Linked DNA regions of Homo sapiens. The protein of the gene in region 2 interacts with the protein of the main gene of each other region in a biochemical or structural test. Each region holds a gene or a part of one and is shown on either strand. Other genes may lie near its edges. The genes, in order: USP15 and BMPR1A.

Region 1 (3,826 bases), on a different chromosome or scaffold from region 2:
GTCTGGCGAAGTGGCTTCAGAGGAATGAATATGAGACACAGAATGTGAATTACAGTGGTAAGTGAGGAAATTAAAAGAAACAAGCTAGACTGACATTACTCAGGGAAGAAAAAAAGTATTTAGTAATTGTTGAAAAATTCTATACAAGGACTAAGAAAAAAGAGAAATTCCCATGGTTTAATGAAATATTGTTTGAATTACATTCGAGTAGTGACAGCATAAAACCATTTTTAATACTAAGGATCTATTCTTAGTATTAGATAGTATCTAGTACTTTAAATCTTTATAAACCAGGTATTTAAACCAGCTCTGAAATCATCAAAGATAAAATGAAGTGTAATAAGAGCATGTACTTTAAAGGCTATGTAAGTGTAAAGCATTTAAAATAGTGGCTGCGACAGACTAAGCATTTAATAAATGTCCGCTGGTAGTAAACTATGAGCAAGCAAATTAATTTCTCTCAGATTCCTCATCTATAAGTCATATAAATATATATATTTTGGTCCTTCTTTTGAGGATCAAATCTCGTAATGCACATAATCAACCTTTATCAGTTGTTCTCTATCTTCCCCTTATTTCCCTACCAATATGCCCAATGGTTTCAATTTACTTTTGTCAATAATCATGACTTATTAATGAAGTGATTTTCAGTGAAAAAAAGAAGAATCACTCTAAACTCACATCATAAGATAAATTCAAGACTAAGATAGCAAAATTGACTGTTTTATTATCATTGTATCTTCCACTATCTTAATTTAAATGTTCTTTCACTTCAAAAATTCTTTAAGAGTTATCTCTAGGGAAAAAATCAGTTGGTGAACATAATAATGCATTCATATTTGCATTTTCTGTGCTGAGTGGTTCATATGGATTTAAGTCCAAGAAGAAAGCCGTATGTATTTGTGGCTTATAGTAAACCAATACCATACTTTTAAAATATGGACCAAGTACCGAAACAAAATAGCCTACAAGATCTTACTATATGCTTCATGGGTTATTTCTGTAAAACTATATGTGAAGGGGCCATATCATCTCTAATAAGAGCTTATGATTATTGATAGACAATTAAAATTCAAAAGCTCAATAGTAAATGACCTCAAATTTTTTTGTCTGAATGTACTTGTGGATCAAAATGACATTTGCTCTGTACATTCAATTATTCACCTATCAATCTTTAAGCATGTTTTAATATCCAGAAGCAAGGTGTTAAGATTTCCTACATGTTCTATCATATCTAAACTGAACAGTCACAAGAGGCAAATGGTAGAATTCTGCTACTAAATATAAAATAGACTTCCTTTAAAAAGAAAAATAGGTTCTTTTCTTTTTAAAGTGAATCTACTTTTTAAAAAATGAATCTTTAAAATAAGAGACAGAGGCTGGGCATAGGGGTTCACACCTGTAATCCCAGCTATTAATACTTGCGAGGCTGAAGTCAGAGGATCATTTGAGGTCAGGAGTTTCAAACCAGTCTAGGCAACACAGTAAGATCCCGTCTCCACAAAAACTTTAAAAATTAGCTGGGTGTGGTGGCGCACACCTGTAGTTCCAGCTATTTCAGAGGCTGAGGCAGGAAAATTGCTTGAGCCAAGGAGTTTGAAGCTACAGTGAGCTATGACTATGCCACTACACTCCAGCCTGGGTGATGAAGCGAGACTCTGTCTCTAGAAAAAATTTTTTTAAATAAAATCAGAGGCAATGTGGTACAGTGCTTTAAGGGCACAAACCAAAGACCTAAACTACTTGGGTTCAAATCCCAGCTATACCACTATGTGAAAACCTTTTTGAGCCTATGATTCCTATTTTGTCAAATGTGAATAACACCGATTCCCAGAATTGTGGTAATATGGTGATGAGTAAATAAGTCAATATGCATTTATAACAGTACCTGGCACATAGTGTTTTTAAATGTAATATTACAGGTCATGGCCTGACAAACTGATTTTATCTTGTTACACTTACGTAGAAGCAAAATTGTTAACTGTCACAAAACCATTTTGCAAAAAGGTCATTTAATGCCTTATATGTGCTAACAGGAAAATGGTATAATTTAGGAAAAAAAGCCTTAATTTCACAAAACAGATAAACGAAATCATTGACTAGCTCTGGACCTTCCTGGACTATTAGGGTACATTAACCCTGGACTCACTAACAGAAGTCATTTAAAAACTTACGAAAAAGGCTTAAATTAAGAAAAGTTGCTTTCCTAGATTTTTAAGCATCTAAGATGTGAAACATGCCTTAAGGTCACTATCTCTGTCCTTGTTTTCACCAATTTACCAAGACTGAAGAAGTTTTTCCTTTTAGTTTCATTTCCTATAAATGATGTAGTATATACCCTACTCTGGTCGTAAACACCCTGGCACTACTGAAACTAATTTTAAAAGTAATAGTAATATAAAAATTTCTTTAAGTATACACTAAATATTTTGAAATTCATGTTGAGTAATAGTGTTCCTTTTCATTATTAAGGGATTTGTGAGTATAAGGTTATTTTCTTTTAGTTTCAAAGTTGCACGAACATAAGGGATCAAATAAAATTAAGCCTCAAAGATTTCTAAGTAAAAGTCGGAATGGACAGAAAGCTCTAAAAACTGAAATCAATGTCTCTTGTCTAAAACTTCACTGATCAGATTCTTTGGCAATTATTGAAATGAAAATGTCACAGAGATTTTAAATGACTTCACACACAAATTACTTACTCTGTAAAGTTACCTACTACAGTTATTAGGGTTTATACAAAAATGGCATGCAATGTTTTGCTAAACTGCAAAAGTTAACTACACATTACCACTTAACATAATCACACATAAAAATTACTGAAAATGATTGGCAGATGAATAACATTTAATAAAAATGGTGGAAACGAAGCAGTGCTTTGGATGATTTGTGGTTATGTTTTACTTACTCATAATAGGCCCATTTCTTTAAAAATTTCCAGGCCAGAAATTTTGCAGGTGGTTCACACCTGTAATCCCGGCCCTCTGGGAGGCCAAGGTAGGCAGATCACTTGAGGCCAGGAGTTCGAGACCAACCCGGGTAACATGGGGAAACCCTGTCTCTACTAAAAATAAAAAATTAGCTGGGCGTGGTGGCATGTGCCTGCAGGCCCAGCTACTGCGGAGGCTGAGGTGGGAGGATCACTTGAACCCTGGAGGTGGTTGCGGTGAGCCGAGACCACGCACTGTACTCTAGCCTGGGCGACACAGCGAGACTCTGTTTCAAAAACTTTTTTTCCAAAGAGAGTATTTTATAACCCATAATTTTCTTTGTAACTCATTAACTACCATTCCTTAAATATGTTCCTAAAATACTCATATGTACCTTAAGCAAATTATCTTTTTGTCTCATCAGAAGAAACCACCATGTATCTGAAAATTGTTTTTAATTCATCCTAAGCGATACAATTCTAGTTCATTTATCTCTTTCCTATAGTTCCTAAACTCTAAATTTTGTTCGTGTTTTTCTGATCTCTTGTTGAAATTGAAACACAGATCAACAAATATCATTTTGAGACTGCTTTATTCCTTATACAAATCAGTGCTACCTTCTTCTTGCTTTTTAAAAAGGTATTACTCTCGTATTAATTTTGATTTACTTCTCAATATAAAGTCTAGAACTAAATACATCATAAAGTATGTTTCTCTTCATCTCACACTTGTGTAACTTATTTTCATCTCTAGAAAATCAGTTTTTAGATAAAAATCATTCACTGCTTACAAATAAAGAGAAACTGTAGTACTTACACAGAATGAAATAAATCTTTATACTTGCCTAGGTATGGAAGTTAGTTACCCGAGTTACCATGAGACAGTCATTATCTGCA
Region 2 (3,826 bases):
GAGAGCATGGGGACCAATCATGTTATCTGGAGATTTTCACCTCGAGGTCATTGGTTTGAATGCAGACGATGCTGGCAGAAACTGAAGGTTATAGAAGGGCAGCAGTTAGCTCACAGAAATAGAACTATGTTCTTACACTAGAGTCTAGCAGCCTGCAGTGACAGATACTGTCATATTTGGTACTAAATCTTTCAGGCTGGAAGCAGAACGGAACTAAAAAAACTGTTCTAGTAATTACTTCCTCTCTCTGACTCAGCTAGGCCATTCTTTGTGGGTTACTCTCAAGGGAATGAAAGGTGGAACCAAACAGACAAGTGTATATGTATTTCATTATGAATGTTAAATAAGTGGTTCAAGACACAACACAGACTTGATTTTACATTTACCATACTGATGAGATAAACTACTGAAAAGACAAAAAATATCACATATGCACACACAGGTAACAGAAAAAGTGCTGCTAAATAGTGTTTTGATGATTACATGCCTTCAGTTTCAATAATTTTCACTTTTTTTTTTTTTTTTTTTGAGACATGGTCTCACGCTATTGCCCAGGCTGGAGTACAGTGATGTGATCAGAGCTCACTGCAGCCTCAACCTCCCAGGCTCAAGTGATCCTCCCACCTCAGCCTCTGGAGTAGCTGGGACCAAGGGCACATGCCACCATGCCCGGCTAATTTTTAAATTCTTTGTAGGGACAAGGTCTCCCTATACTGCTCAGGTTGGTCTTGAACTCCTGGGCTCAAGCGATCCTCCCGCCTCAGCCTCCCGAAGTGCTGGGAATATAGCCGTGAGCCACTATGCCTGGCCAATAACCTTCACTTTCTTATACCGAATATTTAGTAAAAGAATTTGCTACTGAATGAGTATAGAGAACATTTTTATTTGAGATAGAGTCTCACTCTGTCACCCAAGCTGGAGTGCACTGGTGCAATCTCGACTCACTGCAACCTCCGCCTCCCAGGTTCAAGCAATTCTCCTGCCTCAGACTCCCGAGTAGCTGGGATTACAGGCACCCCACACAACGCCTAGCTAATTTTTTTGTATTTTGTTGGTAGAGACAGGGTTTCACCATGTTGGCCAGGCTGGTCTCAAACTCCTGACCTCAAGTGATCCACTTGCCTCAGTCTCCCAAAGTGCTGGGATTACAGGCATGAGCCACCGTGCCCGGCCAGGAGAGAAAACACTTAAAAAAAAAAAAAAAAAGCTGGAAGTTTGTGTACATACATATATTACTCATCCCCGCGCCCCCCACACCACTCTCCTTTCAGAAATAAATTCCGTAATATAATGTCAAGGCTTCCGTTGGATCTGATTGCTACAAAGCGGAAAGACCTCCTTTATGTTAGAAACATCAACTGTAAAAGATGGGGTGGGGGAAGCAGGAGGTACAGGAAGGGAAGAAATCCACTGAGCAGGAAATGAGGAGACTGGGATTCTGTTTTGCCATGGGCCTACCCCGCTTTACCTAGCTGGATGGTCTTGGGCAAGCCATGTCACCTTTCCAGGCTTCATTTACTCTATAAGGCTACAGGACTAGAGGACAGGTGAGGGAACCTGACCAGCTTTAAAATCCTATTACATTAACAGAAGACACGTATCAATTCAGCTCTGGAAAACAAACAGTATATAATATATCACAGCAACTGATTTTTCAAAAATCTAGTGACACAGAAAAAGCAGTTTAGTGTGGCAGAAATATCACTTGAGATAACAGCAAGAAGTGAAGGGTTCAAGTCGCAGTTACGGGCACAGATAAGTTACTCTCTGAACCTCAGCTATCTATAGAAAATGGGGATAATAATTCCTGCCTAATTCAAATCAAGAGGTTATAGGTAGATCAAATGAATATTTACTAAAGTGCTTAACTACATGTAAAATAGTATACAAATGAAGATGTTACTAATAACAAAGATCAGAACACTAAAAGATCACTGATACATGAAAAAACTCAAAGTTATATGAAACTTCCTAGAATACTATTTGAATTCATGAGACAAAAAACTCAATTACAGTAGTTGTATCTGGAGCTTATGTTATTGCCAAATATTCAACAGAATACTTAGTAGGGGTCTATTATGTGCAGGCAAGGTATTAAATGCTAGAAACGCAAAGATGTGGCATCAAAACCACATATGTGGCCTTGAGAAACTTGGTGGAAAGCAGAGGGGGAATAAGCACAAAAGCAAATAAATACAATGTGAAAAGTGACAAAATACAAAGGCCAGGCGCGGTGGCTCACGCCTGTAATCCCAGCACTTTGGGAGGCCAAAGTGGGCACATCACCTGAGGTCAGGAGTTCAAGACCAGCCTGGTCAACATGGTGAAACCCCGTCTCTACTAAAAATATTAAAAAATTAGCTGGGCGTGGTGGCAAGGCGCCTGTAATCCCAGTATTCAGGTGGCTGAGGCAGGACAATCACTTGACCTGGGAGGTGGAGGTTGCAGTGAACAGAGATCAAGCCATTGCACTTCAGCCTGGGCGACAAGAGCGAAAATCCATCTCAAAAAAAAAAAAAAAAAAAAGTGACAAAATACGGAGGTGTTTACATGTAAACAAAGGAAAAGGCTCATCCTAGGTGTCAAACTCAAACTGATCTTAGGTGTCAAAAGTAATGAAATCTAAGCTACATCTTAAAAACTTGCAAGATTTCACCAAGCAGATATTGAATACAAAGAAAAGTAACAGGAAAGAGCCTCTCTGTGCTCTCCCTAGGGGACAGCGCCCACTCTGTTGATGGTTCCTGGATGTACCCCCTCTAGCCATGACCTGCTTAGACATCTCCTGACTGACTTGTCTTAAATGAACTCTTGATTTGCCTCAAACCTGGTCTTACCAAAGTCTTTTGGCTCAACCTCCAAAATGTATGTCAATTGTTTTCATTTTTCTCCAACTCCGCTGTTGTCACCAAGGCCCATCACATCATGCCTCTACTAAGGTAAGAAGTCTCCAACTGTTCCCTCTGCTTCTGCTCTTGGTCCCTGCAATCCATTTTCCACAGAGCAGCCAGAGACATTTTATAAACACAAATCTGTCACTCCTATATAAAACCAATCAATGGCTCCACAATGCACTCAGAATAAAATCCAACCTCCACTGTGTGCTCCCAGGGCCCAACAGGATCTGGGTCCTGCAGGCCTCACCATCATCACTTTACTTGGCACATGGCCTTCTGTCAGTTCTGAACATGTCAATCTCTCGCCACCCACAAGTCCCGTGTATTTACAAAGAATAAACTACGAGCCCTGGGGTGGACTGGGGGTATAGGTTATATTTCAAAACAAACACACACAAAATATTTAATAGCTTACATGTTTAAGTATAACATCTCAGGAAAAAATGAAAACATATACATACAAAGAGACAAACAGTTACAAGAGACACATGACCATACACAGGCACATTTACAGGTCCTTGTCATCAACAGCAATTTTTGGCATCAATGATTTTACTAGATTTTTATTCCTGGCTAAGTAATTTTTCATATTTTCCCAATAATTTATTGGCTTCCTTTTTCTACAGCAAATAAATGCCCTCTGCCGCAACCTTAAGATAGAATGTCTACAACAGAACTCAGATGGCAAACGGTTGGTGAGACCAATGGGCTACTGATGCACTATACATATGAGATAATCAGCAATGGTAGCCTAATGAATTCTGCAACAACAGTCTGCATCATTAATTAAATAGAAACCAGGAAGACATCAGCAGAAGGAAAGTCAAGTACAAGGAAGCAAGAACTAGGGAAAAGGTGGCATGTCTACAACTGTGCTGTCCCATATGGTAGCCACTAGCCACATGTGACTTAAAATGTAGACGAATTAA

Evidence for each region.
Region 1: of the proteins of BMPR1A (region 2) and USP15, one has a biochemical effect on the other in vitro, tested with the Homo sapiens proteins (one study listed by BioGRID).

Annotation. Positions count from the first base shown.
Region 1 is NC_000012.12:62,263,404-62,267,229, reverse strand, and holds part of USP15 (ubiquitin carboxyl-terminal hydrolase 15), read right to left. Parts: intron 1-3,826. UniProt on the Homo sapiens protein: Hydrolase that removes conjugated ubiquitin from target proteins and regulates various pathways such as the TGF-beta receptor signaling, NF-kappa-B and RNF41/NRDP1-PRKN pathways.
Region 2 is NC_000010.11:86,885,529-86,889,354, reverse strand, and holds part of BMPR1A (bone morphogenetic protein receptor type-1A isoform 3 precursor), read right to left. Parts: intron 1-3,826. UniProt on the Homo sapiens protein: On ligand binding, forms a receptor complex consisting of two type II and two type I transmembrane serine/threonine kinases.